Regions from separate parts of the Homo sapiens genome. Here region 2 is linked to region 1. The links come from fine-mapping of genetic effects on gene expression. Tissue or cell type: lung. Region 1 holds a variant in brackets; the other region holds the start of a gene. All regions are shown on one strand. Distances are between the middles of the regions.

Region 1 (8,103 bases):
GAAGCACTCCTTTTGGACAGGAGCGACCTCAGTGTTTCCAGGTGAGTGGGTGTCCAGGAAGTGCCCAAGGAGTTGCCTCCAGGAGAATGAATCACTTAGTGGGAAAATAACAAAAGCACTTACTTGCCAAGACGGTGAAGACACTTTATCCAGCAACTGAAAGCGTGTCTTTTTCCACTGCTGCCCTGATGTTGTCACTGGCAAGGAGACTGACTGCAGAAGCCAAGAAAAGGATTCTTGCCCCTTAAAAAACCTTTTGGGCCACAGATGGTGGCCCGGGATGCTTCAACACTCTATGGGGGCGCCGAGATCTGCGGATCACTTGAGGTCAGGAGGCTCCCTGCACTTAGAAGGCTCAATGGAAACTTCCCCCAGTTGAAATCCTGAACCCGGTATCCCTTTTGCATCAGCAGAGCCCTCTGCCTTCTTAGTGAATGATCAGCTACTGAGCCTCAGCTGGGCCAAGAGGCATTTATTGAGTGTTCTGCATATAGTACATAAGGTCTGTGGAGTGAATGTCTGCTTCATTGAGAAAATAAAGGTTTTGGCCAGGTGCGGTGGCTCACGCCTGTAATCCCAGCACTTTGGGAGGCCAAGGTGGGCAGATCACTTGAGGTCAGGAGTTCAAGACCAGCCTGGCTAACACGGTGAAACCCCATCTCTACTAAAACTACAAAAGAAAAAAAAAATTAGCTGGGCGTGGTGATGTATGCCTGTAGTCCCAGCTACTTGGGAGGCTGAGGCAGGAGAATCCCTGAGCCTGTAACACGGAGGTTGCAGTGAGTCGAGATCACGCCTCTGTACTCCAGCCTGGACAACAGAGCAAGACTCTGTCTCAAAAAGAAAAAAAAAAAAAGGTTTAGTAATTCCTTAATTTCTTTCTCTTCTTCCTCCAAGTTTTATATGCATTTGTACTCTTTCTTTCTCTCACCTCTTCCTTCCTTTTTCACATACCATAACATTCATCATGTTAAAGTATACAATTCAATAGCTTTTAGGATACTCACAGAGTTGTGCAACAATCACTACTATCTGATTCGAGAAACTTTCCATCACCCTAAAAAGAAACTCTGTTCCCATGAGCAGTTGCTCCCCCTTTCCCTTCCACCCAGCCTCTGGAAACCACAAATCTACTTTCTGACTGTACCTATTTCTTATTCCGGACACGTCATGTAAGTGAAATCAAAGGATATGTGGCGTTTGTGACTGGGTTCTTTCACTTAGTGTAATGTTTTCAAGGCTCACCCATGTTGTAGCATTCATTAGCACTTTATTCCTTTTTATTGCTGAATAGTATTCCATTGTATGGATATACCACTTTGTTTATTACAGACATGTGATTTCCAAATGTCTTCTCCTATTAGGTGGGTTGTCTTTTCAGTTTTTTTGGTAGTATCCTTTGAAGTACAAAAGCTTTTAGTTTTGGTAAAGTTCAACTTGTCAAACTTGTCTGTTTTATCTTTTGTTACTGTTGACGGACATTTGGGTTGTTTCCACCTTTTGGCTATTATGAATAGTGCTGTAATGAACACTTGTATACAAGCTTTTGTGCAGATACATGTTTTTATTTCTCCTGGCCATACGCATAGGAGTGGAGTTGCTAGGTCATATGGTAATTTTATGCTTAATCTTTTGAGGAACCGTCACACTGTTTTACAACATGGTTTTGCCATTTTATATTCCCACCAACAATATATGAGAGTTCCAATTTCTCCACGTCCCCACTCACGCTTTTCATTGTCTGTGTTTTTGGTTTTAGCCATACTAGTGGATATGAAGTGCCGTCTCATTGTAATTTTGACATGCATTTCTCCAGTGATTGATAATGTTGAATATCTTTTTGTGTGCTTATTGGCCACTTGTATACCTTTTTGGAGACATATCTATTTAAATCCTTTGCCCATTTTAAAATTCGGTTATCTCTTTTTTCTTAAATTATAAGAGTTCTTTATGTATTCTCATATCAGACCTTTATTAGACATGCGATTTGCAAGTATTTTCTCCCATTCTGTGGGTTGTCTTTTCACTTTTTTTGGTAGTGTCCTTTGAAGTACAAAAGTTTTTAGTTTTGATAAAGTCCAGCTTATCTGTTTTTTCTTTTGTTACTTGTGTTTTGTGTCATATTTAAGAAATCCTTGCCTAACCCAAGTTCACAATAATTTACTTCTATGTTTTCTCTATGAGTTTTATAATTTTAGATCTTACATGTAGGCTTTGATCCTTTTTGACTTAATTTTTGTATATGGTGTGATGTAGGGGATTAAACTTTTTTTTTTTTTTTTTTGGATGTGGATATCCAGTTGTCTCAGCACCATTTGTTGAAAAGCTATGTCTTTTCCTCATCGAATGGGCTTGCCACCTTGTCAAAAGTCAATTGCCCATAAATATGTGGGTTTAGTTCTAGACTCTCAGTTTTGTTCTCTTGGTTTATGTGTCTGTCCTTGTCCCAGTACCACTTAGTCTTGAATCAGAAACTGTGAATCCTCTAACTTTGTTCTTCTCAAGATTGTTTTGCCTATTCCGGGTCCCATGCATTTCCATATGCATTTTAGGATCAGCTTTTCAATTTCTGCAAAACAGGCAGCTAGAATTTTGACAGGGATGGTGTTGAGGCTGGGCATGGTGTCTCACGCCTGTGATCCCAGCACTTTAGTAGGCTGAGGCGGGCGATCACCTGAGGCCAGGAGTTCAAGACCAGCCTGGCCAACATGGCGAAACTCCATCTCTACTAAAAATACAAAAATTAGCCAGGCATGGTGGCATATGCCTATAATCTCAGCTACTTGGGAGGCTGAGGCAGGAGAATTGCTTGAACCCAGGAGATGGAGGTTGCAGTGAACCGAGATTGTGCCACTGCACTCCAGCCTGGGAGACAGAGCGGGACTCTGTCTCAAAAACAACAACATTGTGTTGAACTTGTACATTAATTTGAATAGTATCGCCATTTTACCAAGTCTCCCAATCCAAAAACAGGCGGCATCTTCCTTTTATTTATTTCAATGATTGTAGTTTTAGATGTGTATGTCATTCCTTCTTTTGTTAAATTTACTTATAAATATTTTATTCTCTTTCATGTAACTATAAATAGAATTGTTTTTTTAATTTCATTTTTTGGATTATTTCTAGTGTATAAAATACAGTTGATTTTTATATATTGGTCTTGTATCCTTCAACCTTGTTGAGCTTGTTTATAGCTCTCATAGTTGCGCCAGTACATGTGTGTATGTGATTTCTTAGGATTTTCTATGTACAAGATCAAGTCATCGGTGAACACAGAGTTATACTTCTTCCTTTTCAATCTGTATGCCTTTAAATTATTTTTCCTGCCCAGTTGCTTTGGCTGGAAGCTCCAGTACAATGTTAAATAGATGGGGTGAGAACGGACATCCTTGTCTTTTTCCTGATCTTACTGGGAGAGCATTCAGTCTTTCATCATTAAGTCTAATGTTAGCTGTGGGATTTCTGTAGATGTCCTTTATTAGGTTGAGGGAGTTCTCTTCTACTCCTTCTTGTTGAGTATCACGAAAGTTGTTGGAATTTGTCAAATGCTTTCTCTGCATCTATTGAGATGATCGTGTGGTTTTGTCCTTTATTCTATTAACATGGTGTATTACATTGATTGATTTTCAGTGTTAAACCAACTTGGCATATCCTGGAGTAAATCTTGCTTGGTCATGGTGTATAGTCCTTTTTATATGTTGCTAGAGTCCACAAATTCTTTCTTTCTCTCTTATGTACCCTCCTTGTCTCATAGGTTTATTTTTATCTAGCTTCATAATATATGTTTATTTACGTCATAAAAATAATCCATGAATCTCATTCCTTTTTTTTTTTTTTTAGACAGAGTCTCACTCTGTCACCCAGGCCGGAGTACAATGGTGCAGTCTTGGCTCACTGCAACCTCCACCTCCTGGGTTCAAGCAATTCTCGTGCCTCAGCCTCCTGAGTAGCTGGGATTACAGGTGTATGCCATCACACCCGGTTAATTTTTGAATTTTTAGTAGAGACAGGGTTTCACTGTATCGGCCAGGCTGGTCCCAAACTCCTGACCTCAGGTGATCCTCCTGCCTTGGCCTCCGAAAGTGCTCGAATTACAGGTGTGAGCCACTGCGCTCAGCCCATGAACACCATTTCTTAATACTAATTCCCTCGGTTTAACAAAGTAGAACATGCAACATCAACGTCTCCTGCTTCATCTTCCCAACCCCATTCCTACCACCCAGAGGTAGTGATTTTACCACTCTGTTTTGTGTCTTTTCTGTTGTCAGTATTACACTAAATCACTGTTTCTGTCTTGTTTGAAATGTTTGTTCCCC[G/A]GTGCCATGAAGAAATAGCACTTGAACATTAATTTAATTCCTCAGCAAGGCCATTTTTATACTTTCTGCAGAAAGGGTACACTCATCAGCAGTTTTGCCATGAGAGCACACCAAACAAAGGAGACAGGGTCATTTATAACCTGACGTGTCTTCCCTACTGCTGTGTCTGGTTTCCACTGGCTTGAGCAGGACCTGACATTCTGTATTTGTCCCGATTGGCTAGCAACTTAGAACTTTTTTTTTTTTTTTTGAGACGGAGTCTCGCTGTCACCCAGGCTGGAGTGCAGTGGCGCGATCTCGGCTCACTACAAGCTCTGCCTCCAGGGTTCATGCCATTCTTCTGCCTCAGCCTCCCGAGTAGCTGGGACTTCAGGCGCCCGCCACCACGCCTGGCTAATTTTTTTGAATTTTTAGTAGAGACGGGGTTTCACTATGTTGGCCAGGATGGTCTCGATCTCCTGACCTCGTGATCCACCTGTCTCGGCCTCCCAAAGTACTGGGATTTCAGGCGTGAGCCACCTCACCCGTCTGCAACTTAGAACTTTTTAAAAGAGGCAAAGGCAGAGGAGAACAAAGGAAGGAGGAAGTAACTTATGGAATGCTGAAAAAGGTAAAAACACCTTCAAATAAGGAAGAGGAACAGGCCATGCTTGGACCAGTATAAGCATGCCAGGGCATATATTTAGGCTAAATTGTGGGAGCTAAGAGCATAAAGTACATTGATTTCTTTATTATGGCTGGCAGATATTTAAGAATGTTAGCATAGGTCTTTGAATAAATTTTGCTTCTAAGAAAAGTTACTATCTATTCCTAATTAGACAGGGAGGAAAGTCTTTGAAGAGGAACCTCTACTTTACTTTTTACAGTCTCATATTTATTGATTTATCAACATCTGACTGTATCCAGAGTAAATAATTTTCAAGCTAGCTCTCTCAGCTCCCTTCCCACCTGTCTTCTCCCCAAGTGTCTGTTATCTGTCTGTTTTCTTCTAGTGGTAGGGTAGATTGTGTTCTCAATGTTGGACGCAACGAGATGTCCCATCCTACGTGCTCTTTTGCAGTATTAATTTGCTTTCCCTCCATTAAGAGGCGGAGTCTAGTTTCCCTTCCCTTGAATTTTGGCTGGCCCTGTGACCTATTTCTATCAATAAAATGCACGAAAAGTGAAAATGTGTACCTTCCAAGGCTGGGGTTCTTTTTGGTTTTGTTTTGTTTTTAAGATGGAGTCTCACTCTGTCGCCCAGGTTGGAGTGCAATGGCACGATTTTGGTTCACTGCAACCTCTGCTTCCTGGGTTCAAGCAATTCTCCTGCCTCAGCCTCCTGAGTAGCTGGGATTACAGGCACGTGCCACCACGTCAGGCTAGTTTTTGTATTTTTAGTAGAGACAGGGTTTTGCCATGTTGGCCAGGTTGGTCTCAAACTCCTGACCTTAGGTGATCCGCCCGCCTAGGCCTCCCAAAGTGCTGGGATTCCAGGCGTGAGCCACCGCGCCTGGCCCCAAGGCTGGGTTTTAAGACATCTGCAACATCTATCTTCAGTTCTTGAGAGGTTCCTTCTTAGAACCCCTTCCCTGAGGAAGCCTGAGCAGCCTGGAGAGAGGCTCACAGGAGAACAGAGGTCCCTGGCCAGCAATCCCAGCTGAGCTTAAGCTGGCTGATAGCACCCACTGCCAGTCATGCAAGTGGGCCATTCTGGAGTCTCCAGCTATCCCAGTGCTTCAGCCACTACCATGAGAAATAGCACCCGCCAACCAAGTGTGACTTGCCTTCCTGGCCCACAGAACCACAAGCAAATAAAATAGTTGTTGCTTTAAGCCGCTAAATGTTGGAGTAGGTTGTTACACGGCAATAGACTGAAACAAATGGTTACACTATAATTCTAAATTCTATACTTAAATTTCTGTTGATTCACTTCCTACTATGTAAAATGTGTTCATCCTGTTATCTCCCCACATTTCCCAACCTCTGTGACTATATCCTTACTTTTACTTTGTCAGTGTTTGTAATACTTACATTCTATCCTCTATAATAAATTATCCCATCCATATAAACATACTTTGCAATAAATTACTCTGTGCATTATCTAGATTTGCTCTGTCCACCGTGGTAGCCACTAGCCATGTGTGGCCCTTGGAACAGGGACAGTCTGAATTGATTTGTGTTGTAGGTGTAATATACAAGATTGCAAAGACTTAGTGCTAAAAACAATATAAAAGGTAAACTCTCTTATTAATAATCGTATGTTGGTTAAATGTTGAAATGGTAATATTCTGGATGTTTCATTAAAATATACATTAGGCCAGGCGTAGTGGCTCAAGCTTGTAATCCCAGCACTTTAGGAGGCTGAAATGGGAAGATCGCTTGAGGCCAGAAGTGTGAGACCAGCCTGGGCAACGTGGTGAAACCCTGTCTCTTAAAAAAATACAAAAAAATTAGCTGGAGATGGTGGTGTACACCTGTAGTCCCAGCTACCTGAGAGGCTGAGGTGAGAAGATCACCTGAGCCTTGGAGGTTGAGGCTGCAGTGAGCTGTATCATGCCACTGCACTCCAGCCTGGGGGACAGAGACCTAGTCTCAAAAAAAAACAAAAAAAAACCTACTTATCTATCAATTACATTAAAATTAATTCTATCTGTTTCTTTTTCCTTTTGTAATGTTATTAGGGGCGGCAAATATGTGGGTTACCAGTGGCAAATACGTATCGGTCTGCAGCTACCTTAATTCTTGCTTCCTCAGAAAAAAGGTTTTGACTGAGGGGCATAAGGCAGAAAAAGAGACCGAGGCAAGTTTCAGAGCAGGAGTGGAAGTTTACTAAAAAGCTTTACAGCAGCAAAGGAAGGAAAGCACACTTGGAAGACACCCAGATGGGCACCGTGAAGGTCAAGTGTGATGTTGGATCTTTTGACTTAGGGTTGTATATGCTGGCCTACTTCCAGTGTCTTGTTCCCATTTCCCTTCATCCTTCCCATACGGCGAGCTGCCCGCATGCACGGTGCCCTCTCTGCGCTTTGGAGGTGAGCATGCACAGTGTGTTTTAGAAGTTGTATGCATGCTCACCTGAGGCATTCTTTCCTTTTCTGGTGGAATGCCCACGAAGTCATACTCCACCATTTTGTCTCTTAATGTGCATGCCTAAACTCACGCGCCCAATTCCGGATAAATTATTGGAAGCTGCTGATGACGAATTTCAAGTGTTTTTATCTATTGAGAAATTGCCTCTCCTTGGTGCCTGTGACCAATTATTTAGTGTGACAACTGTGGGCCATCAGGAAATTGCCTCTCCCTAGCACCAGCTGCCAAATATCATTTTTAGAGAGGCAGTGTGACAACTGCCAAACCATCACCTGATGGTTGCCTGACATTCCTGGTGGGTGAGGGGAGCCCTCTCCTGCCCCACTCATGCCTGATTCAACTTCCTACTGTAACAATGTGGCTACTAGAACGTTTAAAATGACTTAATGTGGGCATGGTGGCTCACATCTGTAATCCCAGCACTTTGGGAGGCCGAGGAGGGTGGATCACGAGGTCAGGACTTCAAGATCAGCCTGGTCAAGATGGTGAAACCCCATTTCTACTAAAAATACAAAAATTAGCCGGGTGTGGTTGCGAGTGCCTGTAATCCCAGCTACTTGGGAGTCTGAGGCAGGGGAATCACTTGAACCTGGGAGGCAGAGGTTGCAGTGAGCCAAGATCATGCCACTGCACTCCAGCCTGGGTGACAGAGCAAGACTCTATCTAAAATAAATAATAAAATAAAATAAAATAAAATAAAATAACCTACGTGGTT
Region 2 (8,103 bases), 99 kb after region 1:
AACCCTGAAGACCATGAGGGAGCCTGTGGTTTGGGGATGGGTCATATGTCCCTGAGCAGGGCAGCTTCCTTCTCTGGGAGAAGGCTTGGTCACAGGGAGGCGACTGAAAGTAACACTGCTGATGGATCTCTTTCTACATAAAAGGTGCTGGGCTAGGGTGACAAGAATACATATGACATTATTCCATATACCAGGACTTACAATCGAGTGACAGGTATTGCGACCATCATTCCAATATGAGGCAAAGTTTGATAAGAACTATAGGAGAGACTGCAAATTTAAGAGAGACAGGTTGGGAACAGTAAATTCTAATTAGAAGACTTGATTATTATAGCTTTGTAGTAAGTTTTGGAATTGAGAAATGTTAGTCTTTCAATGTTGTTCTTTTTTTTTCCTCAAGATTGTTTTGGCTATTCTGGGTCCCTTGCATTTCCGTGTGATTTTTTTTTTTTTTTTTTTGAGACAGAGTCTCGCTCTGTCACCCAGGCTGGAGTGCAGTGGTGTGATCTCGGTTCATTGAAAGCTCTGCCTCCCAGGTTCACACCATTCTCCTGCCTCAGCCTCCCGAGTAGCTGGGACTACAGGCGGCCACCACCACACCCGGCTAATTTTTTGTATTTTTAGTAGAGACGGGGTTTCACTGTGTTAGCCAGGATGGACTCGATCTCCTGACCTTGTGATCCTCCCGCATTGGCCTCCCAAAGTGCTGGGATTACAAGCATGAGCCACTGCGCCAGGCCTCCGTATGAATTTTAGTATCAACTTGTCAATTTCCGCAAAAAGGGCAGATGGAATTTTGACAGAGATTGTATTGAGTCTGTACATCAATTTGGGGGTGTACTGGCATCTTAACAATACAAGTCTTCCAACCTATCAACAGGGGATAATTTTCCATTTGTTTAGATCTTCTTTAATTTTTTTGATGATGTTTTGTAGTGTTCAACGTACTTGTATTTCTTTTTCTTTTTTTTTTTTGAGACGAAGTCTCTCTCTGTCACCCAGGCTGGAGTGCAGTGGCACGATCTCAGCTCACTGCAACCTCTGCCTCTCAGGTTCAAGCGATTCTCCTGCCTTAGCCTCCCGAGTAGCTGGGATTACAGGTGCCAGCCACCACACCTGGCTACTTTTTGTATTTTTAGTAGGGACAGGGTTTCGCCATGTTGGTCAGGCTGGTCTTGAACTCCTGACCTCAGGTGATCCACCCACCTTGGCCTCCCAAAGTGCTGGGATAACAGGCATGAACCACCGTGCCCCGCCATGTCTTGTATTTCTTTTGTTAAATTTATTCCTAAGTATTTTATTCTTTTTAATCCTATTGTAAATGGGATTTTTAAAAATTATGTTTTTGGATTGTTTATTTCTAGTGTAAGAAATACAACTGATTTTTGTATATTAATTGTGTATCCTGCAACCTTGCTTAGCTCATTTATTATCTTTAATAGTTGTGTGTTTGTGTGTGTGTGTGTGTGTGTATGTGGATTCTTTAGGGTTGTTTTTTTTTTTTTTTTTTTGAGATGGAGTTTCGCTTTTGTTGCCCAGGCTGGAGTGCAATGGCGCGATCTTGGCTCACCGCAACCTCCGCCTCCCAGGTTCAAGCAATTCTCCTGCCTCAGCCTCCCGAGTAGCTGAGATTACAGGCATGCACCACCACGCTCAGCTAATTTTGTATTTTTAGTAGAGACGGGGTTTCTCCATGTTGAGGCTGGTCTTGAACTCCTGATCTCAGGTGATCTGCTCACCTCAGCCTCCCAAAGTGCTGGGATTACAGGCATGAGCCACTGCGCCTGGCTCTTTAGGGTTTTTGATATACAAGATCATGCCATCTGTAAGTAGAGATAGAGATAGTTTTACTGCCTCCTTTCCAATGGGGATGTATTTTCTGTTTCTTGCGTAATTGTCCTGGCTGGAACCTCCAGCACAGTGATGAAATAGAAGTGATGAGAGCAGAACACCATGTCCTATTCCTGAGCTTAGGGGAAACATTCAGTTTTTCACCATTAAGTATGATAGTAGCTATGGGTTTTTCATATATATACATATATATATATATATGTATATATATATACACATATATATACATATATATATGTATATATATATACACATATATATACATATATATATACACATATATATACACATATATATACACATATATATATACATATATATATACACATATATATATATATACATATATATATATATATACACACTTTTTTTTTTTTTTTTGAGACAGAGTCTTACTGTGTCACCCGGGCTAGAGAGCAGGGGTGCAATCTCGGCTCACTGCAACTGCCGCCTCCCAGATTCAAGCGATTCTTGTGCCTCAGCCTCTTGAGTAGCTGGGATTGCAGGTGTGCACCACCATGCCTGGTTACTTTTTGTATTTTTAGTAGGGACCAGGTTACACCATGTTGGTCAGGCTGGTCTCGAACTGCTGACCTCAGCTGATCTGCCCGCCTAAGCCTCCCAGAGTGTTGGGATTGCAGGCGTGAGCCACTGTACCCATCGGTTTTTCATAGATTTTTAAAAATCAGGTTGAGGAAGCTCCCTTTCACTTCTAGTTTGTTGAGTGTTTTATCACGAAGACGTGTTGGATATTATCAAATGCTTTTTCTGTGATTATTGAGTTGATCCTATATGTCTTTTCCCCATATATATATATATGTTTTTTTTTTTTTTAAGACGGAGTCTTGCTCTGTTGTCCAGGCTGGAGTGCAGTAGCGCGATCTCGGCTCACTGCGAGCTCCGCCTCCCGGGCTCACGCCATTCTCCTGCCTCAGCCTCCTGAGCAGCTGGGACTACAGGCACCCACCATCACGCTCGGCTAATTTTTTTTTTGTATTTTTAGTAGAGACGAGGTTTCACTGTGTTAGCCAGGATGGTCTCGATCTCCTGACCTCGTGATCCGCCTGCCTCGGCCTCCTAAAATGTTGGGATTACAGGCATGAGCCACCACGCCCAGTACCCGCTTCTGAATATTTTAAGAAGGGCATCTTGCCAGTGGACTCTAGTCCCAACTTAGGTCTCAACACAGCTAGGAGGGGAGATGTGTGACTGTTCTATTTTGTTTGTTGGCTAGTCTGACTTAAATACTTATTAGTATTAGTATTGTTATTATTTTTTGAGACAGTCTCGCTCTGTTGCCCAGGCTGGAGTGCAGTGGTGCAATCGTGGCTCACTGCAGCCTCGACCTCTTGGGATCAAGCGATCTTCCCACCTCAGCCTCCTGAGTAGCTGGGACTACAGGCATGCGCCTGGAATATTTTTGTATTTCTTTTTTTGTAGAAACAGGGTTTTGCCATGTTGCCCAGGAAGGTCTCGAACTCTTGAGCTTAAGTGATATGCCTACCTCGGCCTCCCCAAGAGCTGGCATTACAGGCTTGAGTCACCACTCCCAGCCTGAAGCATTATTATTATTATTATTATTATTATTATTATTATTATTATTAGAGACAGAGTCTCACTGTGTCACCCAGGCTGGAGTGCAGTGGCATGATCTCGGCTCACTGGGACCTCTGCCGCCTGGGTTCAAGCGATTCTCCTGCCTCAGCCTCCCGAGTAGCTGGGATTACAGGCACCTGCCACTGCGCCCGGCTAATTTTTGTATTTTTAGTAGAGACGGGGTTTCACCATCTTGGCCAGGCTGGTCTTGAACTCCGACCTCAGGTGTTCCACGTGCCTCGGCCTCCCAAAGTGCTGGGATTACAGGTGTGAGCCACCGCACCCAGCCAAAACACTATTATTAAAATCACTTATTTGTAAACAGGTAATATTTGCACATGATAAGTACAAATCATTTAGTAAAAAGTCAACGGTGACAGGCTTGCTTTGTTTTATTCCCTTTCGGCAAACAGGTGCCCATTTCCTCGCATTTTGTCTATGGTGCCTTTCTTGCAACAAAGGCAGAGATGAATAGCTGCTACAGAGACTCAGGGCCTACATATCAGAGAACATTTTCTATTAGGCCCTTTACAGAAACCTTCGCTGATTTTTTTTTTTTAGTATTTTACCATTTCAGACAATGTTGCTATGCTATCTTTGTATATCTGTCATTTTGCACATGGGAGTTTCTGTAGAATGAATCTCTCTATGTGGAAATGCTAGGTCTTAAGGTGTCAGCATTTGTCGTTTTGATAGGTGTTACCAAATAGCCCTCTAGGGAAGTTGAACTAATTTATACTGTCTTCAGCGAAGCATGCTTGGACCTGTTCCCCACAGCCTCCACTAACCTTGTTAACATCTTGATACTTGCCGATCCGAGAAGGGAAACACGATGCTCATTGTAGTTTTAATTTGCATCTATCTGATTATGAATAAAGAGTTAGCATCTTTTCAAGTCTAAAAATCTTAAAAACAAAACTCCTGAACTTTTCCCGCCCAACAGACTCAAGACTCGTGACCCGGCCGTTGGCACGACGCGGGACGCCGGTGTGGCAGTGGCGGAAGAGGCAGATATCGCGGACCACCCCCGCGCCCCCCAATTCCTTTCAACCAATTCCCTCCCAGCCGCGGAGCCCCGCCCCCAGTCCGCCTCTGGCCAGCTTGGGCGGAGCGCACGGCCAGTGGGAGGTGCTGAGCCGCCTGATTTATTCCGGTCCCAGAGGAGAAGGCGCCAGAACCCCGCGGGGTCTGAGCAGCCCAGCGTGCCCATTCCAGCGCCCGCGTCCCCGCAGCATGCCGCGCCCCCGCCTGCTGGCCGCGCTGTGCGGCGCGCTGCTCTGCGCCCCCAGCCTCCTCGTCGCCCTGGGTGAGTGGATCGCGCCGCCCTCTGCCCCTCGCCCCTCCTCCCCGCGCCGCTCGGAAGTTTGCCCGGCGCCCGCCCTCCACCTCCACTGTTGACAAACTTAGACAAAGCCCCGGGGACCGGGCTGGGCAGAGGGGCGGCTTCTTCCGCTGCGCCCTGGCGGGACAGGGGGATGCGGCCCTGCTGTCTCTGCGCTGGGGCTTTTGGGCTGGGACTCGGGACATCGGGTGACAGCCCTGCCGCCCCCAGGGATGCGGCTTACAGATAATGACAAAGGAATCCGCTGTGTCGGGCCTCTCTTTTCCCTGGTGAAAAATGAGGCCAGGGAACTGCGTTTGACTTTCGAACCCCTTCCACCTGGGAGATTCTAGGACTCTAGTATGGATAAGTCTTGTCTGGATAACTTTGTCCTGGCCATCTCCCTGCCAACTCCAGTTGGCTGGACAGTTCATTGGATTTTTGCGCTCCCAATTGTCCGTGCCTGGTCACATAAGGGAAGGGCCGGGGAGTCGGTGCAATGGACGCAGGCCGTAAGTGGGGCCCGGGAGGGGACCCAGAGGCTTCGAGGAGCTTGGAAGAGGGCTGCCTGCTGATGGGAGTCTCCTGACTCCCTCCCTCCCGCGGCCTTGGCCGGCTGCTGTATCTTCCCCGGTCCTCCTCCGCCTCCCAGGAGGCCTCCGGAGGCCAGCTGGGCCCCTTGCAGGCTGGACTTGCGGATGCCCCGTGCCATTCACCGTGGAGCGCTGGGAGGGAGTCAGGGCCAGGACTCTTTAGGTGGCCCCTCCATCATTTTCTCATAGAAATGGGATTGACTGAAGCAAGGTAGGTAACAGCTGAGCCCCAGCCCTATGTCCTGTGATCTGCCTGACCCTCGGGGCTAGAGCTTCCAGAGTGCTCCAAGCTCCCAGGAACTTGGGAGCTCCTGGCCCTCCCCGGCCACCATGAAAGACAGCTGGATCTTCTTAGCCCCTTTCTACTCTTCCCTGTACCCCCCAACCTGAACTCTGGCCAAATGTTACTGGAAAGTCCCCGAAAGAGCAGGACTCTGAAGTCCCAAAGATGTTTTTATACAGGGTGATGTGGCCTTTTCCAGAAGGAGGAAACACCATACCTATCTTACACACAGGTAACGTGGCTGGGTAGAGTACACCTTTCCCTTTCCCTTTTTCCCACTGGACCGTTTTGCCCTGGAGCAGTGTAGGGAGAGGGCCGGTGCAGTTGGGAGGGAAGAGTCCATTCCCAACCCAAGCCTCTGTCTGTGTCAATGCTCGCCCCCGCCTGCCAGGTCAGAGGAAGGATTACCTGCTATTTAAAGCCAATGACTAATAGCTCCTTGGGAGCCACTTTAAGCTCCTGAGGCCCCTGGAGGGGGAGCTCTGAGGGCAGATCGCTCATTAATGGTGTTGTTGCCTTCCCTGGAGTGGGATGAAGGGGCTTTGAGATTTCAGGAGGACTCTCCAGCCTTAGATGGGTGACTCTGAGGGGGAGGCAAAAAGGTTTTTTTTTTTTTCTTTTTTCTTTTTGAGATGGAATCTTGCTGTGTCGCCCAGGCTGGAGTGCAGTGGCGCGGTCTTGGCTCACTACAAGCTTCGCCCGCTGGGTTCATGCCATTCTCTTTCCTCAGCCTCCCAAGTAGCTGGGACTACAGGCACCTGCCACCACGCCCGGCCCGGCTAATTTTTTGTATTTTTAGTAGAGACGGGGTTTCACCGTGTTAGCCAGGATGATCTGGATCTCCTGACCTCATGATCCTCCCACCTCGGCCTCCCAAAGTGCTGGGATTACAGGTGTGAGCCACCATGCCCGGCCAAGGCAAAAAGATGTCTCATGTCTTGCTCCAAATGACAGATTTGGGTGTAGGGTCTGGGGCAGCCCTTCTGGGATGCTAATGTCGGCTAGAGGACTCCTGTTGGGCCCGGCCGACCCACCAGAGTCAAGGGATTGAGGACAGGCCCTCCTGTTCCTTCTCCTGTGTTCTCCACCACCGGGGCTGATAGTGTACATCTGTCATCCAGGTTCCCATCCAGAAGCCCTGGTGGCCTCTCCAGCCCTTGCCCCCTGGTGGTTCTGAAATCACCCTTCCTTTTCACTCCTCTGCCCTGACTTCCTCTCTCACCATGCTCTCCTGCTCTCCACCTTCACCCTCTTCAGTGGGATTTCTGCATTTCAGCCAGAGGGACCTGTCTGCAGCTACCAGATGCTCCCCACCCTGGGAGAGCTCAGCGGCATGTCTGCACATGGGCCTTTTCAGCCTTCTTCATCCCGCAATTGGAACTGACTTTCCCACTCCCATCTCACACTTGAGAATCTCTGTTTCTTGTTTCTTGTTTTTTATTTTATTTTTATTTTTTCTCCCCCCTGGTGGACAATGGTGAGGAGGGTGAAGGAAGGTTAAAAGCCACTGCTCTACGGGATGAAAAACTAAACTTGTCATTCTTCAGATCCCTCCCAGTCTGGCCCCAGCCTACCCTTCCAGCTGCATCTAACTGTGCTCCAACATACCACACCCTCTGTGCATCTGCTTTTCTTGGAACATTCTTTACTCATTGCCCAGTCTGGCACCCCCCTTACTTTGTCTTCTAGACCCAGCTCAAATATTCCCTCCTCTGGGGAACTTCTAATTCCCCAGCAGAAATCATGCCTCCAGTGACGGTCCATGCAGGCTTCTGGAGCGTTGGGCAATCTTCCTCATCTGTGGACTTGCTGGCCTCTTTCCCCTTGGCTTCTTGAGGCCTGCGCTGCATCTGATTTCTCTGTCTCGGGGGCCTAGCATGGTCATTGGCCCTCCCAGTGTTTCCTGGATGATCATCGTGCTGTTCCTGAGTCAGGGCTGCCATTGGAGGTGACATCTGTGACTGCAACCTGTGCCTGAATTGGTGGGCGGAACCTGCTCAATGGGCCAGAACAATGCTTCCTTCCACTGCCCCTGCCTGAAAGTCCTCATGGGCCTCCTTTGCAATCAAACTGCTGCCAAGAGACCTGCCCTGGACCTTGCCTGCCTCTCCAGACCCCAGCTGCCAGCTCTTCCACCAGTGGGCAGTGGTCCCCAGCACCACTGCCATTGTCAGCCAGCACTTTTCTGGACACTCCCAGGCCACTTGGAAAGCTGGGCGCTTCCCTTATGTGGGCCGATTCGCCTACACATGGACTTCCTTGGCTCTAGGCGGACTCAGGCTCCATCCAGCACACGGGGGAAGAGGGAGAGGAAGAGATAATGGGCGAGTTTGAGTGGAGGGTCCTTTTGGGCTGGACCCATCTGCTACTTCTCACCTGTGTCCCCAGCTCCTTCCTGATCATCTGCTCATCTTACCTGTCTCTGTCCCCAGATATCTGTTCCAAAAACCCCTGCCACA

What was found. PIP is the estimated chance that this variant, and not a neighbour inherited with it, causes the effect.
Region 2: it holds the start of MFGE8, and the variant in region 1 is fine-mapped to the expression of MFGE8 in lung (TOPMed, PIP above 0.99).

What each region holds. Positions count from the first base shown.
Region 1 is chr15:89,008,806-89,016,908 of GRCh38, reverse strand. No RefSeq gene overlaps it. Among named protein-coding and RNA genes, the nearest start is that of CARMAL, 28 kb to the left of the region's middle. The variant G/A (reference allele first, on the strand shown) is at 4,317.
Region 2 is chr15:88,909,897-88,917,999 of GRCh38, reverse strand. MFGE8 (milk fat globule EGF and factor V/VIII domain containing) reads left to right here and starts at 4,621. Exons shown (of 8, transcript NM_005928.4): 1 at 4,621-4,753; 2 at 8,077-8,103. The coding sequence starts at 4,681. RefSeq lists a cis regulatory region at 1-174 and an enhancer at 4,880-5,411.